Homo sapiens: one gene and its partners. The protein of the gene in region 4 purifies or fractionates together with the protein of the main gene of each other region. This does not show direct contact. Each region holds a gene or a part of one and is shown on either strand. Other genes may lie near its edges.

Region 1 (3,876 bases), on a different chromosome or scaffold from region 4:
GTCAGGCTGGTCTTGAACTCCTGACCTCAGGTGATCTGCCCTCCTCAGCCTCCCAAAATGTTGGGATTACAGGCGTGAGCCACCGTGCCTGGCCTTAATTTTAAATTTTTTTAGAGACAAGATCTTGCTCTGTCACTCAGGCGGGAGTGCAGCGGTGCAGTCATATCTTTTGGACTCAAGGGATCCTCCCACCTCAGCTTCCTGAATAGCTAGTACTAGAGGCATGTGCCACCATGCCTAGCTAAGTTTTTTTATTTTTATTTTTTGTGGAGACTTGGCCTTGCTGTGTTGCCCAAGCTGGTATCGAATTCTTGGCCTCAAGCGATCCTCCTGCCTCGGCCTCCCAACATGTTGGGATTACAGGCATGAGCTACTGAGCCTGGCCTTGGTTTAGTTTTCATACCATATAATCTGATGATATTTGGAAAGATTCTAAGACCCTTAATACCTTAATTAGTACTGATCCAATCACTAAGTTATGAACCAGTCATATGACTGTTCAAGAGAAATAACATTTTAATTTATCTCTGTTTGCTTCCAGGAAACAGTGAGACAGTAAAAATCAGATGATTCTTTAGAATCTAGAAGGTTTTTCCTTAATGCTCATAATAAAAATTTTTATAGCAGTGATCTTTGATTATATTTTATTTCAGACGCAGGCATCGATCAAGCAGTAGCTCTTCTTATGGCTCCAGAAGGAAACGAAGTCGAAGTCGTTCAAGGGGTCGAGGGAAATCCTATAGAGTTCAGAGGTCTAGGTCAAAAAGCAGAACAAGAAGGTATGCCTTATTAAGTATTTATTGCTTTGTAACAAATTATTCCCAAATTCAGCGATGTAAAGCAACAATCATTTATTTTCTTATAATTATATAATTTTGATTGAGCTTAGCTGGCACTTATTTTTTTCTCACCTGGGGTCATTCATGCAGTTAGTCATCTGATAGCTTGATTGGAACTGGATGGTCTAATGTGGCCTCACTCATATATCTTGCATTTGGTTCTGGCTATTGGCCGGGGTGTACGTGGCTTCTCATTGTCCAGTAGGCTAGATTGGGTTTCTTTTTTTCAGCCCGGTGGTGGTAGCACGTGCGTTCCCCAGACATGAGTTTACTAGTATTTTGTTAAGGATTTTTGCGTCAGTATTCATCAGGGACTTATGGCTTGCAGTTTTCTTGTAATATATTTGTCTGGCATTGGTATCAGAGTAATGCTGGCCTGATAAAATGAGTTTGGAAGTACTCCCTCCTTTTCAGTTTTTTTGGAAGATTTTGAAAAGGATTGACATTAATTTCTTTTTAAATGTTTGGTGGAATTCTGCAGTGAAGCTATCTGCTCCTGGGCTTTTCTTTGTTAGAAGGTTTTTGCTTACTGATTCAATCTCCTTGTTAGTTATACGTCTGTTAAGATTTTCTCTTCCTTCATGATTCAGTCTTGGTAGGTGGTATGTTTCTAGGAATTTATCCACTTTTTCTAGGTTATCCAGTTTATTAGCATTCTTAGTAGTCTTTTATAATCCTTTCAATGTTTGTGGCATCAACTGTAATGTCTGCTGTTTCATTTCTGATTTTAGTTATTACGCTTCTGGTATTTTTTCTTTTTCTTTCTTTCTTTTTTTTTTTTTTTGGAGGTGAGGTGTTGCTCTGTCACCTAGGCTTGGGTGTATTGGTGCAGTCAGCTCACTGCAGCCTCAAACTCCTGGGCTCAATGATCTTCTCACCTCAGTCTCCTAAGTGGCTAGAAATACAAGCATACACCACCAGGCCTGGCTGACTTTTTAAAATATGTTTTGTAGAAATCAGTCTTACCATATTGCCCAGGCTAGTCTCCAACTCCTGGTGTCAACTGGTCCTCCCACCTTATCCTTCCAAAGTGCTGGCATTATAGGTATGATCTACCTTGCCCGGCCTCATTTTTTCTTAATCTAACTAAGTACTTGTTAATTTTGTTGTTGTTTTTCAAAAAACTCTTAGTTTTGTTGATTTTTTTCTAAAGTCTTTCTGTTCTCTATTTTATTTATTTTTTTCTCTAATCATTTTTATTTTCTTTCTTTGGATAATTTTTGGTTTAATTTGTTCTTTATTTAGTTCCTTGAAGTATTAAGTATGATATGAGACTTTTCTTTTTTTCTTAAATGTAGGTGTTCATGCTAAAACTTTCCTTTCAGTATTGCTTTTGCTGTTTCTCTTAAGTTTTACTATGTGTGTTTGTGTTTTCATTTGTTTAAAGGTATTTTCTAATTTCTCTTATGATTTCTTCTTTGGTGTATTTGGTTGTTCAAGAGTGTGTAGTTTAATTTCTACATATTTGTGGATTTTCTGATTTTTCTACTGCTATTGATGTCTAGTTTCATTTCTTTGTGTTTCGAAAAGATACTTGCTATGATTTCGGTCTTATTAAATTTGTTAAGACTTGTTTTGTGGCCTAACATGAAATCTGTCGTGGAGAATGTTCCATGTACACTTGAGAAGAATGCATATTTTGCTGCTGTTGTGTGGAGTGTTCTGTGTATTTATGTTAGGTCTAATTCATCTGTAGTGTTGTTCAGGTCCTCTTATGTCTTATTTTTCTGTCCATTATTGAAAGTGGATTATTGAAATACCCTACTATTACTATGTTACTAAATACTTCTCCCTTCCATTCTGGCAATGTTTACTTTATATATTTGAGTGCTCTGGTGTTAGGTGCATATATATATAATTGTTATATATTCCAGAATAATGACCCATTTATCATTATATAATTTTCTTTTTTTCTTGTGACAGTCTTTGACTTAAAGTCTATTTTGTCTTGTGTAAGTATGGCCACTTCTGCTCTTTTTTTGTACCATTTGTATGGATTATCTTTTTCATCTTTTTCAGTATATGTGTGTCTTTACATCTAAGGCACATCTTTTGTAAACAGCATATACTGTAATTGTATTTTGTGTGTATGAGTGTGTGTTTTGAAAAATTCATTCAGCTACTTTTGTGTGTTTTGTTTGGGGAGTTTAATCCAGTTACATTTACAATAATTACTGATGGGGAAGGACTTACTGTTGCCATTTTGTTGATTGTTTTCTGCCTTATAGCTATTTTGTCTCTCATGTCTCCTGCTGCCTTCCTTTTTGTTTTGTTGATTTTTGTATTGACATGCTATGATTTTTTTTCTGATTTTATTTTGTATATGTTCTATAGGTATTTTCTTTGTGGTTGCCATGAGGCTTACACAAAACATTGTCTTTTAAGTTGGTAATAACCTTTGACTTTATACAAAAATACTGCTCTTGTATGTTTCTCCACTTCTATTTTATGTTATTGATATCACAGTTTACATCTTATTGTATCCATTAATATAGCTTATAGTTAGTTATTTTTTATACTGTCATCTTTTCAATTCTATATCTGAATTAAAAATGTTTTACATACCACCATTACAGTGTTAGTGTACTCTGTACTTGTGTATATATTTACCTTTACCAGTGAGCTTTATGTTTTCATGTACTTTTGTGTTGCTGTCTAGTGTCATTTCATTTCCACTTGCAGGACTCCTCTTAGTATTTCTTGTAAGGCAGGTCTGGTAGTGAAGAACTCCCTTAGCTTTTGTTTATCTGGGAAAGATTTGATTTGTCTTTTGTTCTTGTAGAACAATTTTGCTTGATATAGTGTTCTTGATTGACAGGGTTTTTTTTGTTTTTGTTTTTGTTTTTGTTTTTGTTTTTGTTTTTGTTTTTTGCTTTCAGCACTTTGAATATATCACCTGATTCCTTTCTGGCTTGTAATGTTTCCTCTGCAAAATTGCTGAAATCTTATGAAAGCTCCCTTGTGTATGACGATTTACTTTTCTCTTGCTGCTTTCAAGATTCTCTCTTTGCCTTTAACTTTTGTTAATTAGATTATA
Region 2 (3,876 bases), on a different chromosome or scaffold from region 4:
TGTGTGTAAATGGTTGACAACTTGTTCAAATAGGATATTACTTAGTAGAACTTCCTCTGATGGGAAGGCTCCAAATGGGGAAGACCCTTACAGAACTCCTTGGCCCTTGTCAACATTCTCTGGCTGAAGCTCCCCTGATCTGATCTAGATGTTGCCTTGTGTATGGATGGCCAGCAGGGCTCAATCATGGGGGGTTTTGTTAGAGGAACTGGGAAAAGTACTAATGCTGTTTCCATTACAGTAGCTGGATGGACCACCTCTTCCTTCCTGGCTCCTCCAACCCAGCCTGGAGTGAATTGACTTTATAGGTTAAATGTGTTTTTCAGTACCCAGCTGAAGAAACAGAATGTTGCCAGCACCCCAGAAGCATCCCACACCTTCTGTACCCCCATGCAATTACACTCACTGATGATAACCAGCATCTTAAAAGAATAGATTACTTTTGTACTTGATATAAATGGTATCATATACTATGTTCTGTTTTGTGTCTGCCTCATTCACTAAGCATTGTGTTTTGAGAGATCTGTGTTGCTGCCTTAGTCATAGCTTGCTTTTTGCTGTATGGTGTTCCATTGTGTGACTTTGTCCAGTCTGCTGTTTATCCAGTCTACTGTCCAGTCTGCTGTTGTTTATCAGTCTACTGTTGATGGCCATCTGGTTCATTTCCAGTTTGAGGCTATTACAAATAGGGATGGGCATCATGAACATTTTGTGCATGTCTTTGGTGCACATATTTCTCTATTTCTGTTAGGGAGGAGTGTTCTGGGTTATAGGGTATGGCTATCTTTAGTTACGGTAGATGCTGCCAGTTTCACAAAGTGTTTTACCAGTTAACACTTCCACCAGCAGTGTATGTAAGAGTTCCGGGTTGTTTCACATTTTTGTCAACTCTTGCTTTTTTTTTTTGAGATGGAGTCTCACTCTGTCTCCCAGGCTGGACTGCAGTGGCGTGATCTCAGTTCACTGCAACCTCCACTTCCCAGGTTCAAGCGATTCTCTTACCTCAGCCTCCCAAGTAGCTGGGATTACAGGTGTGCACCACCACACCCAGCTAATTTTTGTATTTTTAGTAGAGATGGGGTTTCACCATCTTGGCCAGGCTGGTCTCGAACTCCTGACCTCAGGTGATCCTCCCGCCTTGGCCTCTGAAAGTACTGGGATTACAGGCATGAGCCACCATGCCTGGCGTTTTTTTTTTTTTGTTTTTTTTTTTAATAGTTATTTTGGTTGTGCCTTGGTATCACAGTGTAGTTTTAATTTGCATTTTTAATAGATATTTAAATTGAGCACCTTTTCTTGGTTTATTGGCTACTCAGACAGCCTCTTTTATGAAGACATCCAAATATATTCTACGTTTGAGTCTTTTGTCCATTTTTCTGTTGGGCTGTCTTTTTTTTGTTTAATAGGAATTCTTTATGTAATCTGTCAGGTAGTATTTTATCTCCCCAGATTATATTTTTAGTTTTTAAATGATGTCTTCTGATATACAGAAGTTCATGATGTTATAATTGAATATGTAACTTTTTTCTCTTTCTGTATCCTGTTCAAGAAATAGTTGTCTACTCCAAGGTCATGCAGATGTTTTTTTCTAAATGCTTTATTGTCTTGTCTTTTATTTTTTATATCTATGGTCTATTTGGTATGGCTTCGTGTGTGTGGTGTGAGGTAGGGATTGAGATTCTTTTTTTTCCATTGGGATATCTGATTGACCCAGCATCATTTTCTAAAAGATGCCTTTCCTCATTGCACTGCGGCGCCTCCTGTGTGCTTTTGACAGGGATGACAGGGATGAGGATGATAAAGAATAGGCATAGCGTGTCTTTCTCTTGTGAGACACAGGGATTCCAACTCCTATTCTCAATCTTAAAAAGAAGTTATTTTTCCTCCTCCAAGTGGGAATTTTACTAGTGCTTCTGCTTCCAGGATACCAAGGGTTCGAGTTTTGGAGGATGAAGAGGGGTCGAAGGACATTGAATTGTCAGATGACCCTTATGACTGCATACGACTAAGTGTGGAGAATGTCCCCTGCATTGTCACTCTGTGCAAGGTATAACTTGTATTTTATGGTTTTTGTCTTCCCTGTGGGTGTGGGTCTCCTCTAATCCCAACCTGCTGAGGTTACTTAATAAGTTAAGAAGTTGTAATACCACACACCATATAGAAGTAGCTTTTACCCAAATCCAATAATTTGGTTATACTAGAAACCACTACCACGAGTAGCTCTTTCTTTTCTTTTTAATTGGAAGATATGATGTGGTCCTGGGAGCCATGAGTGTGTTTGTAGTAATAGTAGCCAGAGTTTGTTAAGCTCCTTCCACATACCATGTGCTTCACTAAAGCACCATGTCTTTTAATTACCTCAACTCTATGGGGTCTAGGGTGGTTGAGTAGTGGCAGGGTGGCGAACACTGTCCCCCCTATGAAATGGGAGGTTGGAGCAGGTCTTGGGTATCATGAGTGGTTTTCACATAGAGGGCTGTGGAGCTGAACATCAGGCTGATGTGATATATAACTAATGCTGCCCCAGGCTGTGCAAAGAGGCCTGTATTGGCTATTGACTGGGATTGTAGCTAATTCCACTCAGGATTCATTATCTCAAAATAAAGCTAAACAGGTCAGGTTTAATTCCACTGAAATCACTTCATGAACAGGATGTGGTGAAGTGTTCAGACAACAGGATGGCAGGATGTTGGGTCTTGGCTTTTTTTTTTTTTTTTTTTTTTTTTTTTTGAGACAGTCTTGCTGCAACGCCCAGGCTGGAGTGCAATGGCGCGATCTCAGCTCACTGCAACCTCCGCCTCCCAGGTTCAAGCAATTCTTCTGCCTCAGCCTCCCAAATAGCTGGGATTACAGGCACGTGCCATCATGCCTGGCTAATTTTTGTATTTTTAGTAGAGACGGTGTTTCACCATGTTGGCCAGGCTGGTCTCAAACTCCTGACCTCGGGTGATCTGCCCACCTCAGCCTCCCAAAGTGCCGGGATTACAGGCATAAGCCACCGCACCTAGCCGGCTTGTTCTTTCTTGTTGTTTATTTGTTTTTTTTTTTTTTTTTTTTTTTGAGACAGAGTCTCGCTCTGTCGCCCAGGCCGGACTGCGGACTGCAGTGGTGCAATCTCGGCTCACTGTAAGCTCCGCTTCCTGGGTTCACGCCATTCTCCTGCCTCAGCCTCCCGAGTAGCTGGGACTACAGGCGCCCGCCACCGCGCCTGGCTAATTTTTTGTATTTTTAGTAGAGACGGGGTTTCACCTTGTTAGCCAGGATGGTCTCGATCTCCTGACCTCATGATCTGCCCGCCTCGGCCTCCCAAAGTGCTGGGATTACAGGCGTGAGCCACCGCGCCCGGCCTTGTTTTGAGACAGTGTTGCTCTGTTGCCCAGGCTGGAGTGCAGTAGCACAATCTAGGCTCACTGCAACCTCTGCTGCAACCCCCCCACCCGCCCCGGCTCAACCTCAAGCAACCCTTCCACCTCAGCCTCCCAAGTAGCTGGTACCACAGGCTCACACCACCATATCTGGCTATTTTTTTGTATTTTTGGTGGAGACAGGGTCTTGCCATGTTGCCTGGGCTGGTCTCAAACTCCTGAGCTCAAGCATTCCATTTTCCTCAGCTTCCCAAAGTGCTGGGAGGCATGAGCCGCTGCGCCCAGCCTTTGGCTTGTTCTTGAGTGTGTCCCTTAGCATGGACCCTCTTGATTCCCCCTTGCCATCAGTGAAACGTCCATGTGGCCTTGTGTGTGAATTTCTCCCTTGTGCCCCTCTGTTGGAAAGCCTTGGTGGCCTTTGTCTTGGTTGGTCTCTGAATTCTAGTTTTAAACCACCTTGCCCTGTTTTTCCATATCGTGTTTTTATTGTACCACCCACACAGTGGCCTGT
Region 3 (3,876 bases), on a different chromosome or scaffold from region 4:
CCCAGGTCAGAAACAGAGCAGGACAAAAAGCTCCGGTGCTGATCAGTAGTGGGACTGCGCCTATGATTAGCCACCTCACTCCAGCCTGGGCAACATGGCGCGACCACATCTTAAAAAAAAAAAAAAAGAAAAAAGGCACAGCTGGGCGTGGTGGCTCACGCCTGTAATCCTAGCAGTTTGGGAGGCTGAGGCAGGCAGACTGCTTGAAGTCAGGAGTTCAGGACCAGCCTGGCTAACATGGCGAAACCCCGTCTCTACTAAAAACACAAATATTAGCCAGGCATGGTGGCAGGCGCCTGTAATCCCAGCTACTCGGGAGGCTGAGGCGGCAGAATCGCTTGAACCTAGGAGGTGGAGGTTGCAGTGAGCCAAGATCGTGCCATTGCACTCCAGCCTGGGCGACAAGAGTGAGACCCCATCTCAAAAAAAAAAAAAAAAGCACACACCTGAAAACATACCTAAAGGGTAAAATGGACGACTCAAAAAGTTCTTTACACAAATTAAGTGTAATATCAAGGGCCCAAGCATAACAAGCTTCAAAGAACAAAGTATTCTGAAGCCTGTGTTTACAGAAATCACTGGGCTAGTTACGGATGATCATCTTGCTTAGAGCAGCACCAAGGACCCTGACTTGGATGATACCCAACAGCGCACGGTATGGATAAAATGCTGTGGGTTGGGCTGGCATTTATGTCTGTTTCCTAATGGCTAGTTTATATCCTGTCCTGTCCCATCCTGAGGGCCACCCGCCCCCTGTGGAATGGCCAATACCTCCGCTCCTAACACCTTCCACTTCCCTCACGTCAGGGCCATCTAGATGACAGACTGGTTCCACAACGTCTCCTTTGGAAAGAGAATGCTTTCTTTGTACCCTGTTAAGAAGCTTCTGGGTTCTGGTAGCATTAGGCGGTTCCTGAGGAGCACAGACTAACTCAGCTGAGGCCAGCATGCGGCACTCCCCCGGGCCCGGCCCCACCCCACCAGGCACGCTGCCCACCTGTGCAGGCCCGACACACTCTGCCGCTTCTTCTGCTTCCTCTGCTCCTCGGCCTCCAGCTGCAGCTGCCGCACCAGCTCCTTGGCCTTGGCTTCTTTCCGCCCCAAGGGGACAATCTATCGGGCAGAAACCCACAAACTCCACTAGGGTCACAGCCACAGAACTCGCCCATCGTGTCGATTACGGCCTTAAGCCTCAATGAGCCCTCCCGACTCCCGCCCTCATTCATCTCTACAGCAGGCAGGGAGCATCCCACGGGACCACGCAGCAAGAAGCTGCATGTGGGCTGCCACTGCAGCGTCCCGGGGAGACCTGACGCCCAAACACACCGATCCTACTGAGGCAGGGCTTAACCTTAAAGCCAGCTCATGCACAACTGTTTCCAGAGGTCTGCCATCCTCAGAAGGCCAAAAGAGGAGAGAAAGGCTGAGCAGCCGGGACCTCGTGCACTCCACAGATTCAACAGCCCAGGACAGCACGACACAGCAACTCACCCTACTGCCAACCCCACGCAAACGGTTTTACTATCGGGACAGAGACCAAAATTTCTGATTAAAAGGTAGTGAGCGAGTGAAGGAAACCATTTTCCCAACGACTGCTCATCCGCCGAGTCCTCTCACAGCTGTGCACCGCTTCGAGTAACCGCAAACGCGGTCTGTTTCATTATTTCATGTCTTTGCAAGAACAGCATCGGATCCTACTCTAAAGAAAATGTTCAGGCCGGGTGCGGTGGCTTACGCCTGTAATCCCAGCACTTTGGGAGGCCAAGTTGGGCGGATCACCTGAGGCCTGGAGTTTGAGACCAGCCTGACCAACATGGAGAAACCTCGTCTCTACTAAAAATACAAAATTAGCTGGGCGTGGTGGCACATGCCTGTAAACTCAGCTATTCGGGAGGCTGAAGCAGGAGAATCGCTTCAACCCAGGAGGCAGAGGCTGCAGTGAGCCGAGATTGTGCCACTGCACTCCAGCCTGGGCAACAATGGAACTCCATCTCCAAAAAAAAAAAAAGTTCGGGCTGCAGTAGCAGCATGGCGTCTTTCGACACCAAGGAGACTCTTCAGCAGACCCTGCAAAGGAGGCTGCAGCACCTTGAGGTCCTGTGGGGGCCGGGCGCAGTACAGCAGGGGCCCTTTGACGGCACGGAGCTCGTGGGTGGCAAGGGTGGCAGCCGTCCTCTTCTCACAGAGATCTTCGTGGAGCTTGGTCTGTAACACAGAAGCAGTGATGAGCAAGGTCTCTTGTGCCCTGAAGCCCAGCGAGGTGTCCACACTTCACCCTTGGCTGGGCTGTGTGCCAGGAAACCCTCCCGGTCCAAGGTCTTCACAACCACGCCACGCCCCTTTCCGAGACAGGGCTCCCCTCCAACTCCTCTCCACCCGGCCAGCCAGGCACTCACTTTGTGGAATCACCATCAGGAAAACTATCTTAACCTATCAATCAGCAGACTTTCTTCCTTCTCTAATTCTGACATAATATTTGAGATTTCAAAGAACCCATCTTGAACTAAAATGTAAATAAAGGCTGAGCTTTAAGTTGTAAAGCCCTGGCTGTGATGCCTGTTCCCTTCCTCCCCAAGCTGCAGGCAGGACTCTCACGACAGTCACTCTCGGCCCGCCATGCTCTGTCGCTGCCACTGCGGGGCGCACGAGACTTTCCCCTGGGCACAGAGGTGCTTTATATTTTAAAAGTTGGTCAGGTGTCACAGAAAAGCAACTGGGAAGTTAGTCTTGCCAAAACCTAAACAATTCACAGAAGAATGTGCTGGCAAGAGTTGATGACTTTAATACTGTCTTACATAAAACAAAATGTGTGATTTACTGCAGAAGTCAGAAAACCCACCAAAATATCAAAAAATCAAGGAACCCTGATTTTCCTTTTTTTTTTTTTTTGAGATGGAGTCTTGCTGTGTCACCCAGGCTGGAATGCGGTGGTGCAATCTTGGCTCACTGCAACCTCCACCTCCCAGGTTCAAGTGATTCTCCTGCCTCGGCCTCCCCAGTAGCTGGGATTAAAGGTGCTCACCACCACGCCTGGCTAATTTTTGTGTTTTCGGTAGAGATGGGGTTTCGTCATGTTGTCCAGGCTGGTCTCAAACTCCTGACCTCAGGTGATGCACCCACCTCGGCCTCCTGAAGTGCTGGGATTACAGGCGTGAGCCACCGCACCAGCTGGAACCCTGATTTTCAACTGCAATAAAGCTATCCAGAAATTAGGATAGGCCAGGTGTGGTGGCTGACACCCGTAATCCCCACACTTTGGGAGGCCAAGGCGGGTGGACTGCTTGAGGTCAGGAGTTCAAGACCAACCTGGCCAACATGGTGAAACCTCATCTCTTTTAAAAATACAAAAAAATTAGCCAGACATGATGGTGAGCACCTGTAATGCCAGCTACTCAGCAGGCTGAGGCAGGAGAATCACTTGAACCCAGGAGGCGGACGCTACAGTGAGATTAGACTGCGCCACCGTACTCCAGCCTGGGAGACAAAGCGAGACTCCTTAAAAAAAAAAAATCAGGATAAACCGTTAACACCATATGTGGAGGAGCAAGGGATACGACCAGTGACCAGGACCAACCAGGCCAGGGTGCAGGCGTCTGTGAAGAGGCCATCTCCACGCTGGAGACACCTGCCTCCCGGAGGGGACTGAGGCCTTACCCCCTCCTCAGCAACACCTGAGCCAGAACCTGCTCTATTCCCTTTTTGGAGCTGAGGAAACTGAAGCACACAGACACCCGGCTGGGCCCCATACTCCACTGCTGCTCCTTCGGACACGCTGGCCTCAGGATGTGTCCCAGCTTGCGGCGTCTCACACCTCTGTCCCAGTCATCTGAGGACCCCCACGGGCACCCACCTGCGAGGTGAGGAAGCGCTTGAGTG
Region 4 (4,252 bases):
TCACCTTAAAAAAAATAAATTTGTCTTTTACATACCATCTCATTAGAATGTAGTGTTTAGTCAAATGTAGGCTCCACTGTAAAGGGACTTAGACTTTTCTAATTTAAAAAGAATATGTTCTTTATATCAACTTGCTGGAAACTTTAAATGTCTAAGTTAACAGCTTGACTGTTCAAGATTCCTTACATGGCTTTATCATAATAATATTTTCAGAGCTCATTTTCAAGCATAAATGAGTATCAAATGACAAAGCTAGTGGGAAAAATGTCATTTCAAACCCAATTATACTAACACTAGGAGAAGTTAAAGCAATATTTGTCTTAAAAGCACACATTTACCAAGTATTGGTGGGAAAAGATGAACACTCCACATGCCTGCCTTTGTTATTTCCACAATTTTCTTATTTTAAGGTTACAAGATGGTTGCGGTGTTCACACAAAGCCTAATATCCAAGACTTTTCACAGTATGCTACTGATTCTTACCAACATAACCTAGGCATATATGCATTTCACTTTTCAGTCTTGGAGTAAATAATAAAACATCCTATAACAACCCTAAAAAATTTCAAAAACTTTCTCATACTTTTGCATTTGTATTATCAAGGAAATTTCAAAAGAAGATTGTTTTCACTAGTGGAACCCTGACATGATCTGGGTCCCCCTAAAAGACCATAAAATAGAAGTGAATGACTGTAGTATCTAATCCCATAAACAGTGTGTGAACAAGAGAATTTTACACAAGCCCACAGCATTGCTGGGTCCCAGTGTTATTTTTTTAACCCTCTAGGACATTATGCAGCATCCAAAAAAAACTCAAATTAATAATTTTGCATGGAGAATTTATTGCAGATATACACAGGTATCTTCCTTGAGGTATATAAAAGAAATATACTTCCTAAGTGTCCTGATTCTTACTGCAGCTTATTTGTGACTTTTTTATCCGAATTTCCATTGAATTAACTGGTCATCTAGGTAGAGTACATTTCATTTGAAAATTTTTTTGATTAAACAACAGGAGACCTGCTAATACAGTCTATATAAGGCACATACTGAAGGCTTCATTTTCATCCCAGATAAACAGGTACCACTAGCAATACAGAGCATCCTAGGAAATGTGACTCTGCACATGTTAGGTCTGAGAGTGCAGAAACAAACTGTCAAAACAGAAAATAATGTGTGCTCGTGGTATGCAGACGTGATTACAACTTCCTCCTTTTACAGTGATGCACAACCACATTCTGACAATGATGTGTTATCTCATGTTGTAAGAGAATGGAGGAGAGGGGAGGGAAGGAGCTAGTTAGAGAGGTAAGGAAGAAAGAAAAGAAAATGGAAGAAAAAAAGAAGGAGGTGAGGGAGAGGAGGAGGAAAGAAAGGAGGAGGTATTTTACTATTAACTCCTTGACAGTTTATCTGAAAATGTTGTATTTCATCCACTCTTTGAAAGGGAAAACTATCTTTTATAGCTATAATGTTTTGATTTGCAAATAATGACTTTGCCATTCCATGCTACAATTAAATTCAAATCAACAACATGACTGTTTCTTGCAGATTAAAAAGCTGAATTTTTAAAAGGTACAGATCTTTATCTTCTGTTTTCAGATTTTTCTATAGATCAAGTTAAAAGTCCATCAACATAAAATAAAAGAAAAAGAAAAATGTATAACTATGAAATATTCACAAAATGTAATTTAGAATTATTTTATCATTTTAAAATGAAAATAACTTAAAACCATAAATTACACAAGAATAAAATTAATGTTTTTATTTTATTTTGTTCTTCATACAAGGAATAAAAATTAAATCACTATTCAGTATATAAATGGGATTTACAACATAAACCTAATTTTATACTTTTTTCATAATTGAGTTCCAATTTTAAATTTCACAACTAAATTCTTAAAAACCATATAAATTTACACAATACATAATAAAAAGCTAATTTATTGATTTCTTCTTGTCTCTCACATTGTCTCTTGCAGCTTTTGAAAAAGCAAGCAATTTTTTGGTGTTAATGACACTGACTAAAATAAAGATATATACCACAGGCCATAGCAGTTTGATTATGGAACTCTCTGGGTAGTTTTGGGGTTTTTGTAGTTTTTATTTTTTAAATCAATACAATGAACAAAATTTAAAATAGTTTGTTTCACAATAACTTGAATGCATTCCTTAGCAAACCTGCCTTGCCATTTAATGTATTTTTAAAAAATAAATATTTGAAAAGTGTATCCACAATGTTCCTAAGAAATGGTTTTGAATTCCAGAGTCCAAGGAAATGAATTGGCTGTCAGATAACAATGTGCTTCCATCAGATGGATTTGGCAGTTGTAAACAAAAGGAATTTTCTCAGCTTTTCCTCACAAATATGAAATATTTGCTCTTGGCCAACAGCTGGGGTGATTTAAAGAAGTCCTGCATATATATTAGTTTTCATTCAGAATTACAAATCCTCCTCCCACTCTGAAACATCTGACTTAGTCTTAGTAGAATAGAAAATTGTTCTGAGATGAAGTGACATTCCCAGAGGAAGTAAAAGTCAAAAAATAGTACCTACTTACAACTCTAATCAAATTTCAGAGCATATAGCATCTGGTTAATAAGTTTTAGGAAAAGTTAATTTATTCAAGATGAAAGTTCAGACAACACTCTGAAGTGACTTGAAAAAGAATGAGAAAGTTTGTTTAGTTCTAGTGTCCCTGAAAATATTTAAAACAACAATATAACCAAAATAGAGACTGCATAAAAAGCCATCAAAACTCCTTCAATGGTTTGGAAGTTAACAACTAAACTCAAGATACTTTCCTGTGGTGACTAAAAGTTATTCTTGAAAACATAAAGTTTAAATGATAATTTAAATTATCTATTCATTTTACCAAACATTTGAATTATATTGATGCTTTCTTAAAGATTAAAATATCTTTGCAAGTTACTTACTAGGAATTAGCTAATCACATAGTCTATCAAGGAGATCAAAGAATAAATACTTTCAGAGTATTTTTTATATATTTAGAGATAGGCTATGAACTTATAAGCTTTGTTATGAATGCAACCAAATGTTTACCAATTTTAATTTCCCTCTAAAATTAGTTGAAAGTAGTGATTTTAAATTTATTTTGAATTCCACAATTATAGTCCTTGTATTGTAATATTTAACATAGAGAAAGACCAATAGTAAAATAAAGTAGACATTTCTGTGTTTTACTTGAGGTGATAAAAATATAGTCTATATATTTATAAATATCTTGGAAGGGGACAAACCATTTTTCTACTTATGGACAATTACAGGGAATTAACTTCTGCCCTTTTGCCCAGTGAACCTGAATATGTGTTAAGCTTAAAATGAACATTAGATTTTATTATTTTTTGAAAAAAATTATTTTTACTTAAAGTGACTATTAAGGCAGGCATGAAAACTTATTAAAATAATTGTTGTTTCTTTTACTAGAGCTTTTCTTTGCCTTCAAAATGCAAACATATCAAACCTGAATAATCAAGGCATGTAAGACATACAATTCGTACTTCAATTACAAGGTCTGTAATTTATCTTAATTATTTCAGACAGAGGTTTTGTCTTTTGCAGATATATACTGTAAACATTTTTAAAGTCCTCAAGTAATATGTAAAAAACGTATCTTAAAATCTGAAGTCTACATTTAATCTTCTTGGGAAGAAAACCAACTTTGAATGACCACAATTTGATAACACAGTTCTTACTTTCATAATGTTTAGATTATTTTTCCAGAATAAATATTTTTAAAGCTAGGGCCAAATAAAATAAAACTGAAAAGTAATTATTAACAATAACAATGTTCACCACGCTAAATATAAAAAAGTAAATCTTTATTAGTAAAATATAAAATATTTCATCAAATGTCACTGATAACACACAAAGCACCACCATGAAAATGAAAATAACAATTAGCAAAACTTCTCTCTTCCCTAATGCACCATTAACGCAAATAAAAGTACCACCTTTCTTCCTACATGAGCAAATAAAACAAATCAAATGAAGAATAAGAAATGCTTGTACATCTTTAAGTACCAAAGCAATGATTATCAAGGAAATACATGTCTCAGGAAAGTAACTGTATTTTTGAGCTTAATTACAAGTTAGAACTTTTTATTCAGGAACTCTATTTGTCATAAATTAACCTGAAAACCACTCATTCATCCTCCTTTTTCTGCAAAATTTCAAACCCTAAGACATGAAATTGAAGACATGATGCTTGAAATTTAAGTATTTTTAAAA

Evidence for each region.
Region 1: the proteins of SLIT2 (region 4) and RSRC1 purify together in Homo sapiens (affinity purification with mass spectrometry, with the first as the bait; one large-scale study listed by BioGRID). This does not show direct contact.
Region 2: the proteins of SLIT2 (region 4) and EXOSC7 purify together in Homo sapiens (affinity purification with mass spectrometry, with the first as the bait; one large-scale study listed by BioGRID). This does not show direct contact.
Region 3: the proteins of SLIT2 (region 4) and LRRC47 purify together in Homo sapiens (affinity purification with mass spectrometry, with the first as the bait; one large-scale study listed by BioGRID). This does not show direct contact.

What each region holds. Positions count from the first base shown.
Region 1 is NC_000003.12:158,123,213-158,127,088, forward strand, and holds part of RSRC1 (serine/Arginine-related protein 53), read left to right. Parts: intron 1-653; coding exon 654-779; intron 780-3,876. UniProt on the Homo sapiens protein: Has a role in alternative splicing and transcription regulation. Involved in both constitutive and alternative pre-mRNA splicing. May have a role in the recognition of the 3' splice site during the second step of splicing.
Region 2 is NC_000003.12:45,003,368-45,007,243, forward strand, and holds part of EXOSC7 (exosome complex component RRP42), read left to right. Parts: intron 1-1,923; coding exon 1,924-2,047; intron 2,048-3,876. UniProt on the Homo sapiens protein: Non-catalytic component of the RNA exosome complex which has 3'->5' exoribonuclease activity and participates in a multitude of cellular RNA processing and degradation events.
Region 3 is NC_000001.11:3,782,999-3,786,874, forward strand, and holds part of LRRC47 (leucine-rich repeat-containing protein 47), read right to left. Parts: coding exon 3,851-3,876; intron 2,206-3,850; coding exon 2,089-2,205; intron 1,114-2,088; coding exon 998-1,113; intron 1-997.
Region 4 is NC_000004.12:20,257,983-20,262,234, reverse strand, and holds part of SLIT2 (slit homolog 2 protein isoform 1 precursor), read right to left. Parts: intron 1-4,252. UniProt on the Homo sapiens protein: Thought to act as molecular guidance cue in cellular migration, and function appears to be mediated by interaction with roundabout homolog receptors.